3 linked regions of the Homo sapiens genome follow. The protein of the gene in region 2 interacts with the protein of the main gene of each other region in a pairwise test. Each region holds a gene or a part of one and is shown on either strand. Other genes may lie near its edges.

Region 1 (3,659 bases), on a different chromosome or scaffold from region 2:
ATTTCCAATATATGTTTATAATACAAGTTTTGTTCTTTGAAGATCTTACTTTTCTGTTACTTGGATATTTTACTTTTTATTCATCATTGAACTGAAAAACTAGTAGGCCATGTTGTAGAACAGTGACATACACTTGAATAATTGTTCTTATGGCTGGATGCGTCACTCTTCCTAACTGCTTCTTACTATTTCATCCTCCTTTTAATAGGGGGTTGACCCAGGTCTTGGGCCTTGGGCCTGTTCATTATCCACATTCATTTTTTTGGTGACATCATTCAGGCCCGTGGCTTTAAATATTAATATCATCTACACACTGATGAGTTTATATTTCCAGTTTGGACTTGTCTTCTAAACTCTAGACATTGTATACAACTTCTTACTCCATACTAGTTGGCATCTTCAACATAACAGGTCCAAATTCAAACTTCCGCACACTCCTTCCCACCTCAAAACCACTCTTCCCACAGCCAGCCCCACCTCAATTAAAGGCAGCTCCATCTTCCATTTGTTCAAGGCAGAAATCTCTCAGTCATCCTTGAGTATTTTTTTCTCATACTCCAATCCAATAATGTCAGGAGCTCTACCTTCAGAGTATCGTGTGTGCCACATCTTAGCACCTCCACTGCCACCAGCCCCTCTGCTCATCTCTTCCTTGCAGTAGCCTTCTAACTGGTCTCTGCTGCCAGTCTTGTCTCTGGAGTCTGTTCTCAGATCCGCCACCAGGGAGGCTCTGTCAAGGCATTTAAGTCAAATACTTTTCTCAGAACTCCACAGTGGCTTCTCACGTCACCAGGAATAAAAGCCAAAGATTGTAAAACGGCCACAGGCTTCGTAAGACATGGAGCCTGTGTGACTTGATGTTGGGCCCAACCCTGTTTCTTTTCTGGCTTCATTTCTTGCTCCTTTTCTTTCAGACACTGGTCTTTTCACCATTCCTCAGGCCTGCCAGGCACCATCACTATCCTTGGGTCTTTACCCAAATGTTACTTTATGACCCTCATATGTACAATTGCATCTCAAGTTTGTATTCTCCACATTTCTCTGCTGCTTTCTCTCTTTCCATAATACCATCTGACATAGGTGTATCATTGTCAGCCTTCCTTCCTAGATGGAAGGCAGGGATTTTTGTCTGTTTTGTTTACTGGTATATCTCCAGAATTTAGAATGTCTGCCGCATAGAAAGTCGTCAGTAAACATTTACAGAATTCATTTTATTATGAAAGAAATTTTAATTTTGCTCTTAGGTTCATCTCTAACAAGTATTTAGTGAAACGACAGAGCAGAGACTATGATGTGGAATGGGGCTATGCTTTTGATGTGCATCTCAATGCTTTTTATCCACTCCTGGTCATTTTGCATTTTATCCAGCTTTTTTTCATCAACCGTAAGTAGCAGTTAATTAGAGTATTATCCAAGTCTTCATTGCATGCATTGGTAAAGGGACTCATGGTCTGCGTCTCTTCTGGCAGATGTTATCCTGACAGACACATTTATTGGATATTTAGTTGGAAATACCTTATGGTTGGTTGCAGTTGGCTATTATATCTATGTAACTTTCCTGGGATACAGTGGTAAGTAATTTTTTTAAATGTTTTTGGTTGAGAACATAGCAAGAGGGGGAAAGTTGTAACAGTAGTACAAACAGCTGCTTTTATGGAACACTTACAGGCACTATCCTAAGTATTTTATGTGCATTATCTCATTTAATCTTCATGACAATTACACAGGTTTGTTTCTGTTTTCAAATGAGGAAACTGAGGCAGAGAGATTAAGCAACTTACCCATGGTCATGCAGCTAGAAAATGGCCTAGCTGGTATATAACAGATTTTATACTTTCAAGGAAACATGTTAAACCATACTGGTTATCTCCAGATGACTTGCAGGAATCCAAGACCATTCACTCCTCTTCTCCCATGCTTTCAGGTTGTGGGTTACCAGCAGGAGGGTAGAGCGAAGAAAGGTGGGGCCCAGCATCTTGTTACATAGGTCTATGAACTGAAGTTCTCTAAAGCCTTTTGAATCATAACTTTTTGCCCCATTCTTAGTTTTCATGATTACCGTATGGTTCTGTAGACAATCACAGAAGATCGGGCCCAACATTTATTGTCCTCAGGACATGTTTGCAGATTTACTGTTAAATCCTGTTGTCAGTTCATTTTTCTTAATATGAATGAGGAACATATATTATTTTTCATTTATGTTAAGAAATGATCCCATTAAATAAAGCCAAATAAAATCTAGAGACTGCGCTGTACGTTTCTTACCCCTTCCTTTCCTGTTACTGTAGATGATTAGGGCCTAACTGTAAATACAGATGGCTCTGACTATGCCTGGCTCCGGAGTTATTCCCACCCCGGTTCTCTCCCCCCTTGGCTGGTTTGTCAGGGAACACTTAACCCCTTCATTGTAATGCCTTGTTTGGGGAGTGCTTTCTCTAGTCCAGGGGAGATGTTTGTGTCATTTCTAATGAATTTTGAAAGTGTTTTGTGATGAGAACACTGCAGCACTGTGGTTTCTCTAAGTGGTTATTTGAACACTCCTGGTAACGACCTATACCACTTAGAATAGTTGGAGTACAGCTCAGTTTGTTTAAGAACTTCCTATATGAGAAATACTTAGGTCGGGATGCATGGGGTAGGGTCCCGCTAACTAAGCAGTGAGCAAGAAACATCAATATTTGGAGCCAGACTTTTATATTTAAGAGTTTCAGTTCTTTTCTGAAGCCTGGGCTACTAGTTGAGCTCACACCCTCTTAAAGTGGGGGTATAATGCTTTACACTGGAAAATCTCAAATAGCTAAAAGATGTTTTCCTATAACGCCATCCATCTCTGTACTTTAAGTTGGACTCCTAGAGGTTTCTGAGGCAGTCACAAGTTTAAATTCACCACTGTTTTCATGAATATTTGTGACATTTCTCCCTCATTGTTAACCTCTCTTGGTCCAGTGTATGATGTCCCACTCAGCCTCTGTGCTGAAATAATTCCTCTCCTAGGTTTCTTCCCAGCCCTAGACAAGGAGGAAACAGCACAGAGGGGTTGGGAAGAGTAGTCTAGTTCTGGGCATAAATAGCATCATCTTACTGATTCAAAATATGCATTCCCTTCCACCCCACATGTTGAAGTAAGCTGTCTTTCAAAATGTTCATTTATTAGTCATTTATTTTTTTTTTTTTTTAAATCAGTTTGGATTCCTTTCTTTTCCAGCATTGCCATTTTTGAAAAATACAGTAATTCTTCTGTATCCATTTGCACCTCTGATTCTGCTCTACGGGCTTTCCCTGGCACTGGGATGGAACTTCACCCATACTCTCTGTTCTTTCTATAAGTACAGAGTGAAATAAAAAGTGAGAAGAAGATTCAATCGTAACTGTGTCAACAGTATTGTGAAGTGATCATTTCTTGTAAAACTTGTAAATAAACTATCATCTTTGTAGATATCTTAAAGGTGTAAAGTTTGCAAATTTGAAGAAATATATATTAACACTGTGGTCAGGTACATTCCTTAAAACTAATTAAATGTACATTTCTATAATAAATATTTTTTAAACTAAAGCATGTGTGTTCACTCTAATATTTGCAAATGTAAGAGCTACATGTAAAATGCTAATGGCATGGGGAAAACATAAACATAAAACAATATGAATTATTTTTGAAAGAG
Region 2 (2,822 bases):
AGAGAACAGAGTGCCTTCCTCAAAGTGCACTTTAACACCAATTTTAAAAAAAAAAAAAAAAAAAAAAAAAAACAGGACATTCAAACCCACTTTATAACACATTTCATTATAACTCTCAACATTAGTATATTCTTCCTAAGTACCTACCCAAATCCTTCAACTGTCCCTTCATGTCCATGAATTGAAGTCCCCTTCAAAACCTTTCTAGACCCTAGGGACTGTGATTTACACCCTAGGAGAAATACACAACTTTCCCTATTGGAATTTGTTACATTATACTAGCAAGCAAATGCCGATTCTCTCTCCCTTTGCAATTAGCTAAGATGTAATTAGGTTGCCAAGCAGCCAACACGAAACAAGTACAGGCTGACCATACACTAGAACCATTTTAGAAGCTTTGGTTCAAAGCTACAGTAGAGTTGTGAGAAAGAATCTACTCTGATGCTTATCTGAGAGGAACGCAAGAGATTTGCTGCCCTCTTACAAAAAGTGCACAGAAGTTTCTAGACCAACCAAATTCCCAGATTTGAGGTTTTAGTACCAGAAAGACCTGAAGTGACCTCAAAGGACAATACTCTATGGATCTTTAGCTCTCAAGACTTGAAAAGAACTTTCCTCACAGTGTATCTCAGAAGACCCCAGTGGAAACACTAAATCAAAGCAACGTATTTCTTTGGACCTAATGGCCCCAAGAAGCTATTCTCAGGGGGGAGGAATCTGTCAAGTTTTTATACTTTTCATTCCTGCACCTGATGGGAGAACAACTCTGTATAGAGAACTCTCCCATCTGTATAGAAAGGTGCAGGAATCAAAGCTATCTTCAAATTTGCATCACCGCCTACACCACGGACAAGAAGAGGTAGATCAATTGGGGGTTGGAGGGAAGAACTGGAAACTCTCTTGGTTAGACTTTCTCGAAGATCTTTCCTGCCTGCCTCCTCATTCCCTGAATGCAACACAGACCTTGCATACATAAACTCATCTCCTGTTGTTTTACTGTATAACGAAGTTAGAAGTGAAGTGATGATGAAGACACAATAGTCTAATTCATTAGGACTTTTACTACTAGTACTACCATTAGGGAGACTGAGGGGAAAGTGAGTTTAAAGAGTAAACCATGGGAGAGACGACAGAGATGGAAAATATATACTTAGCACACTCTAGGGCTGAGTTGGTATTTTTGTACTTTCCAGATTAAACAAGCTTCATTGTTCACTCCTCTTGTTCTCTCTCTACACCTGTAACCCTTTTTAACTTTACAGATAAAACAAAAATGATCTACACAGCTGCCACAACTGAAGAAACAATTCCAGGAGCTCTGGGAAATGGCACCTACAAAGGGGAGGACTGCTCCCCTTGCACAGCCTAGCCCTTCCCCTGGTGGCCTGGATTCTGGTCCCAAAGCAATTCTGAAAGCCAGTGTGGTAAACTAGAGAGAGCAGCAAAAACACCAGTCTTGCCTGAGTCTTTCTCCAGCATTTCCAGTACATCTATCAGAATCATCAAGTCTTGGCCGGGAACACAGACAGGGTGTCTACCCAAGAAGCCTCACCTATCCCCAACTTAGAATTTGCTACTTATTTTAAAGACTTGTTCAGTGACTGTAAACTCTATGAAACCAGAAACCGAATCTGCCTCTTGCTGGGATCTCTAAAAGTGTCTGATAAGCATCTTAAAGTCACTCAATTCCTGAACTAATCAATATATATGTTTAACCCATTACTCAAATACCCAAATCCCATTCCAAGTTTTGTGACCCAAAAGAGAAATAAATGCTCACAAGTGCTGTAGAATTAAACTTCAGAAGTTCTAACCTAAAAAGTTCAGATCCTATTCCTTCCCTTTTGACATTATTGGGATGATGCTCCCGAAAAGTCAAATTTGACATCAAGTATGCAAAAGTGAACACAGTAAGATGCAATCAGGCAAAACAAACTCAAAAAATAGCTAATGAAATGAAAAAACTGGGCGAATGCATCATGTTAGTAGAGGAGGAAAACTTTTGACAAGGAAAAACCAGGAAACAAACACATACATTAACACAATGTTACCTCACTAATAATCTCTTTTTTAAGTTCAGTAGGTATTTGGTTTTAACACAAGGCGCCCCCAAAACTGGGTACAGCAAACTACTGCCAAAATGAGTCGTTTCCCAATTCAAAGAAAAATGTTCAAATACCTAGAATTCACAAATTTCAAATTGTCTCTAATAAAATTTAAACATTTTGCATATCATATGTAAATAAGGATCAAGTAAATGATTAACAACTAATATTAACAATTACAAAAAGTCAATCATGCTTATTAGTTACTTGGGATTTTTATCATTTTGTATGGTCAGGTACAAATGAAACCAAGACAATATAGTTTTCGGGTATCAGTTTGGCAAATGTGCAGGACTAACAAGTACTCCCAACACCAAAACGAGAAACACAGATTTGGGTTACTAACATCCTCTTAAAAACGCAGATTTTTGACAAGGCTACCACCTATCATTTTTACTTATTATATCCATATATACCTACCTGTTCAAATTGTTTTCTCTATTATCTAACCAACATCATCTGCTAGGAGACTTGGTTACATACAAGTTATGTAAGAACACATTTGTTTAGCTTTTGAGGAAGACAGGGTTGGCCTCAAACCATTCTTAGAAAGGAATAAAGATGGCCGGATGCAGTAGTTCACACCTGTAATCCCAGCACTTTGGGAGGCCGAGTCGGGCAGATCATGAGGTCAAGTGATTGAGACCATCCTGGCCAAAATGGTGAAACCCCATCTCTACTAAAAATACAAAAATTAGCCAGGCATGGTGGCACACA
Region 3 (3,659 bases), on a different chromosome or scaffold from region 2:
TCCTGGGGCTGCGCAGATAGGAAGGTTGACTTATAACCTGTCATTGCCAGTGCTGGGCCCTGGAGGGTGCTGGGTCCCTGTCACATTGTCCCTGTGTCTGTGTCTGTGCAGAGGTGCTTGTCAAGTGCATGTGCGGAACCAGCTGTCCTTTTACAGCAGAGTGTACTCTGAAAACAGCTTTATCAGGCAGCCTTCTGAAGAGTTTTGACCTGGGGCAGCTATATTGCAGCCGCAGCTTGCATACAGATGAGTTTCTAGGAAAAGGGAAGCAGGATCTGCCTGGCTGCTTTCCATCAGCACAGCACGCTTGTGACGGGCTCCCATGCTGCCTTTCTCCCGAGAGATTAAATGGAAATGTGGTAACTTTCAATTTTTGGCTCAATTTTTCTCCCATTCTCCCCATTCACTTTTTTATGATATTGGAAGAGGTTAGGTTTGCAGAAAAATAGTTCAGAAAGTGGGTTTTCTAATGCACAAAAACCAAAATCTTGTGATCTTTCTATTCTGGTTTGTTTTTTTTTTTTTAAAGAAATGCAAAAAGTTCTGGGAACACAGCTGTTTACCCATGTTAAAACCAGTATGTTTCTGTCTTTTTCCCCTTTCTGTTTCTGTCTCCCTTTTTAACGTGTAGCTGCAGATAGCAAGGATGAAGAAGTCAAGGTTGCCCCCAGGCGGTCCTTCCTGGGTATGTACCCTGCGCGTGCACTGTCCGCAGCACGTTCCTTTTGCTTCATTCCTGCAGCTGTACTTCCTCCTGTTGTTGCTTCCATCTGTGCATGTGCGTGCGTCATCTTTACCAAGCGTGGCCGAGTCTACAGCAAACTAATCAACTCCTAGCTCTGCTGTTTTCAAGCATGAAGTAGTTACTAGAAGCCTGTCCATGCTCTTCTGTGTGTGGGGAGATGGGGGCGGGAAGGGGAAGCAGGAGGGAGACAGGAAGGGAGGAGAAAAATTTAGATGACAAATTTTGGACTTTGTTAAATTTATTCCAAAGTATTTTATCCTTTTTGATGCTATTGTAAATGGAATTGTTTTCTTAATTTCAGTTCTGCTGCTTCATTGCTACTTTATAGAAATGTAATTGATCATTGCATGTTGATCTTGTATCATGCAATTCTGCTGAACTGGTTTGTTCTAAGAGTTGTTTAGTAGATTCTCTATATATGATTCTGTCATTTGCAAATATAGTTTTAATTCTTCCTTACCAATGTAGTTGCTTTTATTTCTTTTTATTGCTTATCCTGGTTATAGGCGGTGAGAGTGGATGCACCTATCTTATTCTTCATTTTAGTGAGAAAGCATTCCATCTTTCATCACTAAGTAGATGTTAGTTAATGGATTTTCCATAGTTGCCCTTCATTAGGTTAAGGCAGTTCCCTTTTATTCGAGTTTGTTGGGTGTTTTTATAATAAAAGAGTTTGCCAAATGCTTTTCGTGTCTGTTGAGATGATCATGTGGGTTTTATTTTTTATTCTACTATGATGATGTACTACATTGATTGATTTTTGTGTGTTGAACCAACCTTGCATTCTTGGGATAAATCCATGTGGTCATGGTGTCTAACACTTTTTATCTGTTGCTGGATTTTATTTGCTAGTATTGTATTGGGGATTTTTTGTATCTGTATTCGTAAGACATGATGGTCTGTAGTTTTCTTGTGATGACTTTGTCTAGATTTAGTATTAGGATAATACTGGCCTTATAGAATAAGTTGGGAAATGTTCCCCTCCTTTTCTATCTTTTTAGAGTTTGCAAAGGGTTGACACTAATTTCTCTTTAAATATTTTTAGAGTTATCCAGTGAAGCCATCTGGGCTTGGGCTTTTCTTTGTGGGAAGTTTTAAAATTACGAATTCAATCTCTTGTTATAAGTCTATTCAGATTTTTTGTTTCTTTGTAAGTCAGTTTTGGTAGTTTGTATTGGAATTTTTCCATTTCACCCAAGTTATCTAATTTGTTGACATATAATTTTTCTTAGTATTCCCTTATAATCCTTTGTATTTCTGGAAAGTCATTAGTAATGGTTCCTCTTTTATTCCTGACTTTAGTAATTTGATCCCCTCCTTTCCTTTCTTTTTTTGGTCAGTCTAGCTAAAAATTTGTCAATTTTTTGTTCTGGTCAAATAACCAACTTTTTAAAAGGTGTTTCTTTTTCTTTTCTTTCTTTCTTTCTTTCTTTTTTTAACACAACACATCCACATTGCCTATCAGAGAACCAATTTTTGGTTTTGTTCATTTTCTTTATTGTTTTTCTATTCTGTGTTTTATTTCACTCCAATATTCTTTCATTCCTTATGCTTGCTTTGGTTTTAATTTACTCTTTTTCTTAAGGTGGAGGTTAGAACATTGATTTTTTTTCTTTCTTCCTTTTTAATGTAGTTATTGACAGCCATAATTTCTCTCTAAGCAGGTGCTTTACCTGCATCCTATACTTTGGTGTGTTGTGTTTTTGTTTTCATGCACCTAAAAGTATTTTAAAATTTACTCCAAGATTTCTTCTTTGACCCACTTATTAGGAATGTGTTAACTTCCACATATTTGTGAATATCCCAAAATGTCTTCTGTTATCGATTTCAAATTTATTTCCATTATAATTGTAGAATATACTCTGTATTATTCCAGTACTTTTATTTATTTATTTTTAATATTTGGAGACAGAATCTTGCTCTGTTGGCTGTGGTGTGATCTTGGCTCACTGCAACCTCTGCCTCCTGAGTTCAAGCAATTCCTGTGCCTCAGCCTCCCAAGTAGCTGGGACTATAGGTGTGTGCCACCGTCCCTGGCCAATTTTTTTTGTATTTTTTGTAGAGACAGGGTTTTCACCATGTTTACCAGGCTGGTCTCAAACTCCAGAGCTCAGGGCACCCACCCACCACAGCCTCCCAAAGAGCTAGGATTATAGGCATGAGCAACCACGCCCAGCCAGATTCCAGTACTTTTAAATAGAGGCACATCTTATGGCCTAGCATATGATCTGTCCTGGAGAATATTCAATGTGCATTTTGCTGTGGTTGGGTGAAGGTGGAGGGTTGTCTGTTAGGTCAAGTCTATGATTTATTGTTCTTCTGTGTAGTTGTTACGTCCATTACTAAATGTGGGTGTGGAAGTCTGTAACTATTTTTGAATTATCTTTTTCTCTTTTCACTTCTGTCAGTTTTTGTTTGATGTATTTTGGGGCACTGTTGTTTGTTAGGGACGTATATGCATATTTTCTCTTTTGACATCTGTGTCTTCTGACGTTAGTGTCATCACATGCATGTCTCCTGTGGTTGCCATTTGATATATTCTTTCCATTGTTTTACTTTTAACTTTTTTATGTCTTTGAATTTAAAATGAGTCTTCTGTATACATACGATGGATCTTTAAAAAAAATCCATTCTGGCAATTCTGCCCTTTGATTTGATTGTTTATTTCATTCACACTTAATGTTATAATATGTTCAGATTTACATCTGCTACTTTACTTTCTGGTTTCTGTATATCCTATGCCTTTTCCCCTTAGCTGTTGCTCCTTTACAGCTTTCTTTTGTATTAAGTAAATATTTTCTAATGTAACATTTTAATTTCTTTAAATAATGTTTTCTGAATTATTTTCTTAGTAGTTACTTGAAGGCTTACAATATTCATCTTAACTTATCAGAATCTACTTCAAATTTATACT

The links.
Region 1: the proteins of SLC10A1 (region 2) and UNC50 interact in binary tests that used the Homo sapiens proteins (3 or more experiments, as listed by UniProt).
Region 3: the proteins of SLC10A1 (region 2) and SLC66A2 interact in binary tests that used the Homo sapiens proteins (3 or more experiments, as listed by UniProt).

The regions. Positions count from the first base shown.
Region 1 is NC_000002.12:98,614,963-98,618,621, forward strand, and holds the end of UNC50 (protein unc-50 homolog), read left to right. Parts: intron 1-1,244; coding exon 1,245-1,384; intron 1,385-1,469; coding exon 1,470-1,571; intron 1,572-3,183; coding exon of another isoform or gene 3,184-3,205; coding exon 3,206-3,342; 3' UTR 3,343-3,553; downstream 3,554-3,659. UniProt on the Homo sapiens protein: Involved in the cell surface expression of neuronal nicotinic receptors. Binds RNA.
Region 2 is NC_000014.9:69,774,829-69,777,650, reverse strand, and holds the end of SLC10A1 (hepatic sodium/bile acid cotransporter), read left to right. Parts: intron 1-1,262; coding exon 1,263-1,369; 3' UTR 1,370-2,235; downstream 2,236-2,822. UniProt on the Homo sapiens protein: As a major transporter of conjugated bile salts from plasma into the hepatocyte, it plays a key role in the enterohepatic circulation of bile salts necessary for the solubilization and absorption of dietary fat and fat-soluble vitamins.
Region 3 is NC_000018.10:79,930,995-79,934,653, reverse strand, and holds part of SLC66A2 (solute carrier family 66 member 2), read left to right. Parts: intron 1-631; coding exon 632-685; intron 686-3,659.